Regions from separate parts of the Homo sapiens genome. Here all the other regions are linked to region 1. Evidence: fine-mapped expression QTL. A gene starts in region 1. Each other region holds a variant in brackets. All regions are shown on one strand. Distances are between the middles of the regions.

Region 1 (2,853 bases):
TTCTTATCCAGGACATCTACTCCAACCAGAGGGAAATTTATCATGAAGCTAATGAAGTTTAAACTTCAGGGCTGCTCACTTGCACAGGCTCCAAACTGGGAGTTGTAGAGGGAAAGCCAGTTGTTGTCTGGAAGCATTTTTTTTTTTTTTGAGACATAGAGTCTCATTTTGTTGCCCAGGCTGGAGTGCAGTGGCGTGATCTTGGCTCACTGCAACCTCCGCCTCCAGGGTTCAAGTGATTCTCCTGCCTCAGCCTCCTCAGTAGCTGGGATTACAGACGCATGCCACCACGCCTGGCTAATTTTTGTATTTTTAGTAGACACGGGGTTTCACCATTTTGGTCAGGCTGGTCTCGAACTCCTGATCTCGTTATCCGCCCGGCTTGGCCTCCCAAAGTGCTGGGATTACAGGCATGAGCCACCACGCCCGGCCATCTGGAAGCATTTTTATGTAAGCATTTCTAATAAGTAGCCTAAAGAGATCTCAGGAAAAAAAAGGGTACTAATCTCCAAGTCTCGAGTATTTGTTGTGATGTATTTTCTCTCTATAGTAATCTTCTGATTGCTAATTTTGTATTTATAATTTGTATTTTATGTCTCAAAGAGGTCCCCCAAATTGTATATGTTTCAAGCCCTCCAAGTCTGAATCTACCCCAGCCCATTTATAGATTCCATTAATGGAGCATAAATGTATTCAGAAAGGCTGCATTAACACTCTCAGAGGAGCTGCTTCAAGGTGATTGACTACTCTGCATTGGGACTGGTAATTTAAAGGTTCTTAAAACCATGCACTTGCAAACACCACTAGGAGGCTTGCCATAATTTTTACCTGTTTTCATCCAAAGGTTTGCCTTTAGGTGAAACCGCACTGTTAAAAAGATCGTGGGTACGTCTTCGATAAAGCATCAACTTGATTAAGGAACCCTCCTACTGAATTCCCATTTAAAGCAATACTTGGACTAAGGACACCGTTTTTGGCTGCAGTCTTGATCGTCTGTCAATCAGAAACCTAAAAGTACTTAAGCTGGCAAGTCACCATCCCTAATAGCATTCTTCCTTAAAGACTCCCATAAGGTATTATGGAAAGTTAGATTCATAACAACTATTAAGTTGTTCGTGGGTGCAAAGCCCCATAAAGCCACTGGGGAGAAAATTCTTTGTTTAAAAAGTAACCACTGAAGCCGACTGACATTAGTAGTATTCCTAGTACGGAGTACTAACAAGAGTAGTAGTTTCTACTCTGGATTTGAAGCCTTGTTTTGCTGCGGCGCCCGTCCCATCCGCACCTTCCTCTTAAGAGAGCTGCTAACTTCCCCAAGGATGGAAACGTCCCCCTGGGTCCTGGCCTCTCTATCGCTGACCCCTGCGTCTGAATTTCCCCCACGCCGCACTCGAGCCTTGTCTCCAGCGCATCTGTGCCTTCGCGGTCCACGTCCCCACCGCGCTCTAGAGGGAGCCCGCGGGCCGCGCGCCGGCCGCGGATTCATTTTACGTGAGGCCGCCGCGACCACGAACCTTGTTCCAACACCTGCAGGGTCCGGCACGCTAGTCAGTGGGGGTGCCTCAGAAAACATAGCCCCGTGTGCCCTCACTGGATTTATGAGCGGCCCCTCGCCCCCTCACAGTCAGACACACGTCGCCACCCTCACAAGTGCGGCCGGTGGGATCTAGCTGGGACCCTCCCCGCCTGGGAAAGTCTGGGTGCTGGCTCCTAAAGCGCCCCGGCCAAACCCCTGTCCCTCCAGTCCGCCTGCTCAGGCCTCGGCTGTCCGCGGTCTTCACCGTCCTCGCCTGCGTCCTGGCCCCATCCGGCTCCAGGCAAAACCCGGAGCAGCTACCTCTCCGCAGCTCCCGGGAGACCGCGCGGCGCCGCGGCTAGAGCATGCGCAGTGCGCAGGGCCGGCTCGAAGCGCAAGCAGGAAGCGTTTGCGGTGATCCCGGCGACTGCGCTGGCTAATGCGGTACCGGCTAGCGTGGCTTCTGCACCCCGCACTGCCCAGCACCTTCCGCTCAGTCCTCGGCGCCCGCCTGCCGCCTCCGGAGCGCCTGTGTGGGTAAGCGGAATGGAGCGCCCGGGCCCTCGGGCCCCGTGGGTCACAGCGGTTTGGCGCTCGGGTTGCAAAGTGGTGATTCAGCACTTAAAGCCGCCACCGCTGCCCCTCACGCCGCCCGTCCCGCCGGCCTGGGGCCCGTACTGCCGCGCTGAGGCCGCCCCAGGGCCCGGAAGAGCGGCTCGCCAGGCGGGAGCCAGAGGCCTGGTCCAGAGTCGGGGACGTCCCTTGGGCTGGTGAGGGGCCGGGGCCGCTACCCGGGGCCACGGGGCGTGTGCCACTAGTGCGGGGGGCGCAGGGGCGGACAGAGTCACCCGGCCTGCACCTGGGAGCCGCGCCGCGTCACTCTCCCGGAGTCCGCCTGTGAGGGGGCCGGGAACCTGAGGCGGACTCGAGCCGTGGGGTAAAGGAATCCGGCGACTTCGGGGGGACCGCTTCTCACCTTGCCCTCAGCCCTGCCCTTTTCTCCGGGCACTGAGTTTCCAGGACCGTGTGGAATGCCCGCGCTGGGAAAAAAGTTTGCCTGCCTCCCGCCTTGGAAGACGAGTGTGGGGTTTCCTATCGGGGGACATTTAGGAGCCAAAAGATACCTCGGGATCCTCTACAGCAGCTCCCTTGTTTTACGTCGGAGACAACCGGAGCTCCGAGAGATGGCTTGATTTCCCAGCAACTGCCGAGATTGTGGCAAAACCAGGATTAGGACACAGGTTTTTTGCCATCCGGCGGCGTGCCCTCTCCACTGCACCGTTGATCTGCGTACGCTAGGCGTTTTCAGGCTTGTAGTGAACGCTGAATACTTTTTA
Region 2 (2,853 bases), 50 kb before region 1:
AATTGTTGATCAGATCTAGGAGCTTATGGACAGAGACTATGGGGTTTTCTAAGTATAAAATCATATACACCCAGCGGGGCACGGTAGCTAACACCTGTAATCCCAGCAGTTTGGGAGGCGGAGGTGGGCAGATCACTTGAGGTCAGGAATTCAAGACCAGCCTGGCCAACATGGTGAAATCCCATCTCTACTAAAAATACAAAAATTAGCCGGGCATGGTGGCAGGCACCTGTAATCCCAGCTACTTCGGAGGCTGAGGCAGGAGAATCGCTTGAACCCAGGAGGTGGAGGTTGAAGTGAGCTGAGATCGTGCCACACTGCACTCCAGCCTGGGCAACAGTGAAACTGTGTCTCAAAAAAAAAAAAAAAAGTGGGCAAATGATGTGGACATTTTTCAAAAGAAGACATATATGTGGCTAAGAAGCATATGAAACTATGTTTAACACCATTAATTGTTAGAGAAATGCAAATCAAAACCACAATGAGAAACCATCTCACCAGTCAGAATGGCTATTATTAAAAAGTCAAAAAATAACACATGGTGATAAAGTTGTGGAGAAAAGGGAACGCTTATATGCTACTAATGAAAATTAGTTCAGCCATTATGGAAAGTAGTTTGGCGACTTCTCAAAGAACTTAAAACAGAAATACCGGCAGGGCATGGTGGCTCACACCTGTAATCCAGCACTTTGGGAGGCCGAGGTGGGCAGATCACTTGAGGTCAGGAGTTCGAGACCAGCCTGGCCAACATGGTGAAACCCCATCTCTACTAAAAATACAAAAATTAGCCAGGTGCGGTGGTGGGTGCCTATAATCCCAGATACTTGGGAGGCGGAGGTAGGAGACTTGCTTGAACCTGGGGGGCAGAGTTTGCAGTGAGCCGAGATTGTGCCACTGCAGTCCACCCTGGACAACAGAGCAAGACTCCATCTCAAAAAAAAAAAAAAACCACACACACACAGAAATACTATTTGAGCCAGCAATCCCATTACTGGGTATATACCCAAAGGAATATAAATTGTTCTACCATAAAGACACATGCACACATATGTTCATCATAGCACTATTCACAGCAGCAAAGACGTGGAATCAACCTAGCTATCCATCCACAGCAGACTGGATAAAGAAAATGTGGTACATATACACCATGGAATACTACACAGGCATAAAAAAGAGCAAGATGGCTGGGTGCAGTGGCACATGCCTGTAATCCCAGTACGCCAGGATACCAAGGTGAGTTGATCACTTGAGGCCAGGAATTCAAGACCAGCCTGGCCAACATGGTGCATGGTGAAACCCCATCTCTACTTAAAAAAAAAAAAATTTGCTGGGCATGGTGGCAGGTGCTTGTAATCCCAGCTACTCGGGCAGCTGGGGTAGGAGAATCACTTGAACCTGGGAGGCAGAGGTTGCAGTGAGCCGAGATCACACCACTATACTCCAGCCTGGGTGACAGAGCAAGACTGTCTCGAAAAAAAAAAAAAAAAAAAAAGAATGAGATCATGTTCTTTGCAGCAACATGGATGGAGCTGGATGCCATTGTCCTAAACAAACTAACATAGGAACAGAAAACCAAACACCAAACGTTCTCACTTATAAGTAGGAGCTAAACCCTGAGC[A/C]GACATGGACATGAGGAAGGGAACAATAGTCACCTGGGCCTCTTTGAGGGTGGAGGGTAAGAGGAGAGCAAGGATTGAAAAGCTATCCATCGGGTTCTATGGTTATTATCTGGGTGACAAAATAATATGTACACCAACTCCTGTTACATGCAATATATCTATAGAACAAATCTGCACATGTACTCCTGAAACTAAAATAAAAGTTAAAAAAAAAGAGAGCAAACACCATATTTTCAATCATGGGACTAAACAAATGAAAACCAAAGTTACTTCTTAAGTTCAAAAATAAAATCAGAAAGATGAAAGCCTCCAATAATCAATATCATTTCTAAAGACTACAGGCCAGGATTGAGTGCCTCACCAATTATTTTTTACTTCTAAAGCATCAAAAAAAGAACACCTCCATTAGTGATGGTAAACTGTTCACTAACCCACAATCTTACATTGTTCTGATTCTAGGGCATCTTACACATTCATGGAATACATTATGACAGTTGGAAGTAACACAGAAAAAACTAAGTTTATTAAATGATTTATATACTATTAGAGTGTTAACATCTACAAAAAAGTTCAGTAAAAGATTATACTAAAATGCTTCTGGTTATTATTAGGTCTAATATCTTTTATCACTATTAACTTTTAAAAAATGCTCTGTGAAAGTCTTGCTTCCTAATATCTTCAAGGATAAACACAATCAGGAATTTTCAAGTTATAGTCCTTAGCATCCCACTTGCCTTCTTCCCCTTGTTTTCTCTGTTATTATTGTTGTTTTATACAATGGGCCTCAATAAAAGCTTTCCTTTGAACAAATTACTCCAGGGCTTTAAAAAGTGAACAGATTAGTGGTTGCCAGGGGTTAGGAATCATGGAAAAGATGAGGTGAGTGTGACTACAGTGAATTAGCAAGAAAGATCCTTGTGATGATAGGATAGTTCTGTATCTTGATTGCAGTGGTGGTTACACAAATCTATACAAGTGACAAAATGGCATAGAACTACTATATACACATCTTGATATGGTCTGGTTCTCTGTCCCCACTGAAATCTCATGTTGAATTATAATCCCCACATGTTGGAGGAGGGACCTGATGGGAGATAACCGAGTGATAAAGATGGACTTCCCCCTTGCTGTTCTCATGATAGTGAATGAGTTCTCACAAGATCTGGTTGTTTAAAAGTGTGCAGTGCTTTCCTCTTCACTTTCTCTCTCCTGCCGCCATGTGAATATGTGCTTG
Region 3 (2,500 bases), 100 kb after region 1:
TCCTGATCTGTGGTAAGCACTTGTTATTTGCATTCCCATGTTTCTCCTTAAATGTCTATCACTGATTTTAGCATCCATTGGTAGATCTTGCATGTAGCAGTTATTACTATGGTGTCCTAATGGAGAAGGGACAGCTCTTCCTTACAGAAGGATTAAATTAATATATGTAAAAAGAAAGAGGGAAATAGAAAAATTGCCATTAGAACTCCATAGTAATAATTGCTACAGGCAATAACTACCAATGGATGCTAAAATTAGTGGGTCAAATTTAAAGAAAAAGAAAATATTTGTATAATCTCATTTACTTTTCCCAAAATAAATATTTAGTAATTACAAAGGGAAAAATAGGTGTAGATGGGCAAGTGGGCTTTTCCAAATTGCATATAGAGCACATATGAGTTATTAAATTATAAATAAAAGAATAAAATAATACATTTACAGTGAGGACATCTGGCAGACACCACCTTAACCAAGTGATCAGTTTTAACATCACTAGTACTACAACATATCAACTTCATGAGTCCCCTGATAGAATGCAGTGAGAAAGGCGCATTACCTTTGTGGTATTCTTTGTGGTAATACAGACATGAAATCTAATTGTGAGAAAACACCAGACAAACCCAAATGTGGGACTTCTATAAAATAACTGAACAGTACTCTTCAAAAGTCTTAAGATCATGAAATATATGGAAGGACTGAGAAACTGTCAGAGATTAGAGGGAACTAAAGACATATGACAGCTAAATGTAATGGAGGGTTGTGGATCAAATCCTGGAATAAAAAAAAAGATAAAAATGGGAAAAATCCAAATAAAGTCTGTACTTTAGTTAATAGTATTATACCAATGTTAATTTCTTAGTTTTGATGGTTATGAAAGATGTTAACATTAGGGAAAACTAGGTGAAGTGTTTACAGGAGCTCTGTGTACTATTTTTGCAAGTCTTCTGTAAGTCTCAAATTATCTCAAACAAAAAATCCCTCATAGGTAGCGCTCACTATGTCTTCTTACACCTTTGCAGATGTAACCCTTCCTCGCCTTAAGGCCTTCATACCTCAGCTCCTGTCACGGCTGCACATTGAAGCCCTTCTCCATGGAAACATAACAAAGCAGGTGGGTGGTTGAGGTTTTAGCAATCTTTTGTGGATCATTGCAAGATATTTTTTCCCTCTAGTCTTTCTCAAGATTGTTAACCAGCATGGTGTGATAAG[G/A]AACACATTAGAGTTTACTCAACCCTCTTGCTCTGTGGAGGAAGGTAGAGGGCACAGGGAAAGTAGAATGATGGTGATTAACTGAGGACCTAACTTTCATGGCTGCCTCCTCTGCTGTTTTCTACCTTGTGCAATCATAGGAGGAAATGGGAGTAATTATCCCTACTCTGTATAGGGTGGCATAATTGTATAGTAGATAAGAGCACGTGCTGTAGAATTAGACAGCCTGGATTCAAATCCTGGCTCTGCTATATACTAGATCTGTAATCTTTTGAAAATGTCTTAACTCTGTGCTTATCTGTTTTCTTTTCTGTAAAATTAGAGTTACAGTAGCACCTACGTCATGTGTGGTAAGGATTAAATAGTACATGCTAAGTACTTAGCACATGGAAAGCACTACAAAATTTCCGTGGCAGTCTGTCTCAAGATCCCTCAGTCTCGGCCGGGTGCAGTGGCTCACGCCTATCATCTCAGTACTTTGGAGGCTGAGGCAGGAGGATTACTTGAACCCAAGAGTTCGAGAGCAGCCTGGGCAACATAACTCTACAAAAAATTGAAAAACAGCCAGGTGTGGTAGTGCATGCCTGTAGTCCTAGCTACTCAGGAGGCTGAGGCAAGAGGATCTCTTGAGCCTAGGAGGTTGAGGCTGCAGTGAGTTATGATTGTGCCACTGCACTCCAGCCTGGGTAACAGAACGAAACCCTGTCTCAAAAAAAAAAAAGAAAAGATCCCTTGGTCTCTACCACTCTGCTATACCCCCTCCAGAACAATATGCCCAAGGTCAGATGCTAATAAGTGGCAGAAGCAAGATTCTTACCAAGGTCATTTTACCTACAATAAAGCCTATGTTTGCCTCCCTTGCTTTTCTGTGACCCCAGGTGTCTGTAGTCAGGATCATTTCACTTGAGACCATCTTTGGCAGTGCCTTTTTTCCAGCATCAGCATCAGTGTTGATGATTGTTTGGGTGTCTGTTTCTTTCACCACTACCATATTGACTCTATTGCAAAATGACCATACTGACAAATTCAATTTTTATCCATTTGAATAGGATCAAATATATTTAAGGTTTTAGAATCCACTTTTATGATAAACAAAGCCAGTTTATTTCACAAACAAGATATGTTTATGTTTTTGTAATATGCTGGGACATATCTTTTTCCATAGGCTGCATTAGGAATTATGCAGATGGTTGAAGACACCCTCATTGAACATGCTCATACCAAACCTCTCCTTCCAAGTCAGCTGGTTCGGTATAGAGAAGTTCAGCTCCCTGACAGTAAGTAGAGATGT

Which allele goes with the higher level. Positions count from the first base shown, and alleles are read on the strand shown. Sizes are in standard deviations (SD) of each study's normalised expression. Not every link is listed here.
With allele C in place of A in region 2, the expression in fibroblasts of the gene that starts at base 1,882 in region 1 is higher (small effect, 0.26 SD a copy in GTEx).

Evidence for each region. PIP is the estimated chance that this variant, and not a neighbour inherited with it, causes the effect.
Region 2: its variant is the best candidate, but not a certain one, in a credible set for the expression of IDE in fibroblasts (GTEx, PIP 0.71).
Region 3: its variant is the best candidate, but not a certain one, in a credible set for the expression of IDE in nasal epithelium (TOPMed, PIP 0.77).

Annotation. Positions count from the first base shown.
Region 1 is chr10:92,573,122-92,575,974 of GRCh38, reverse strand. It overlaps IDE (insulin degrading enzyme), which reads left to right and starts at 1,882. Exons shown (of 25, transcript NM_004969.4): 1 at 1,882-2,053. The coding sequence starts at 1,956. RefSeq lists enhancers at 1,223-1,462, 1,473-1,532 and a silencer at 2,033-2,482.
Region 2 is chr10:92,622,868-92,625,720 of GRCh38, reverse strand. All of the region lies in intron 10 of KIF11 (kinesin family member 11), which reads right to left. Among named protein-coding and RNA genes, the nearest start is that of KIF11, 31 kb to the right of the region's middle. The variant A/C (reference allele first, on the strand shown) is at 1,620.
Region 3 is chr10:92,468,865-92,471,364 of GRCh38, reverse strand. IDE (insulin degrading enzyme) reads left to right here. Exons shown (of 25, transcript NM_004969.4): 18 at 1,020-1,111; 19 at 2,375-2,486. Among named protein-coding and RNA genes, the nearest start is that of IDE, 100 kb to the left of the region's middle. The variant G/A (reference allele first, on the strand shown) is at 1,210.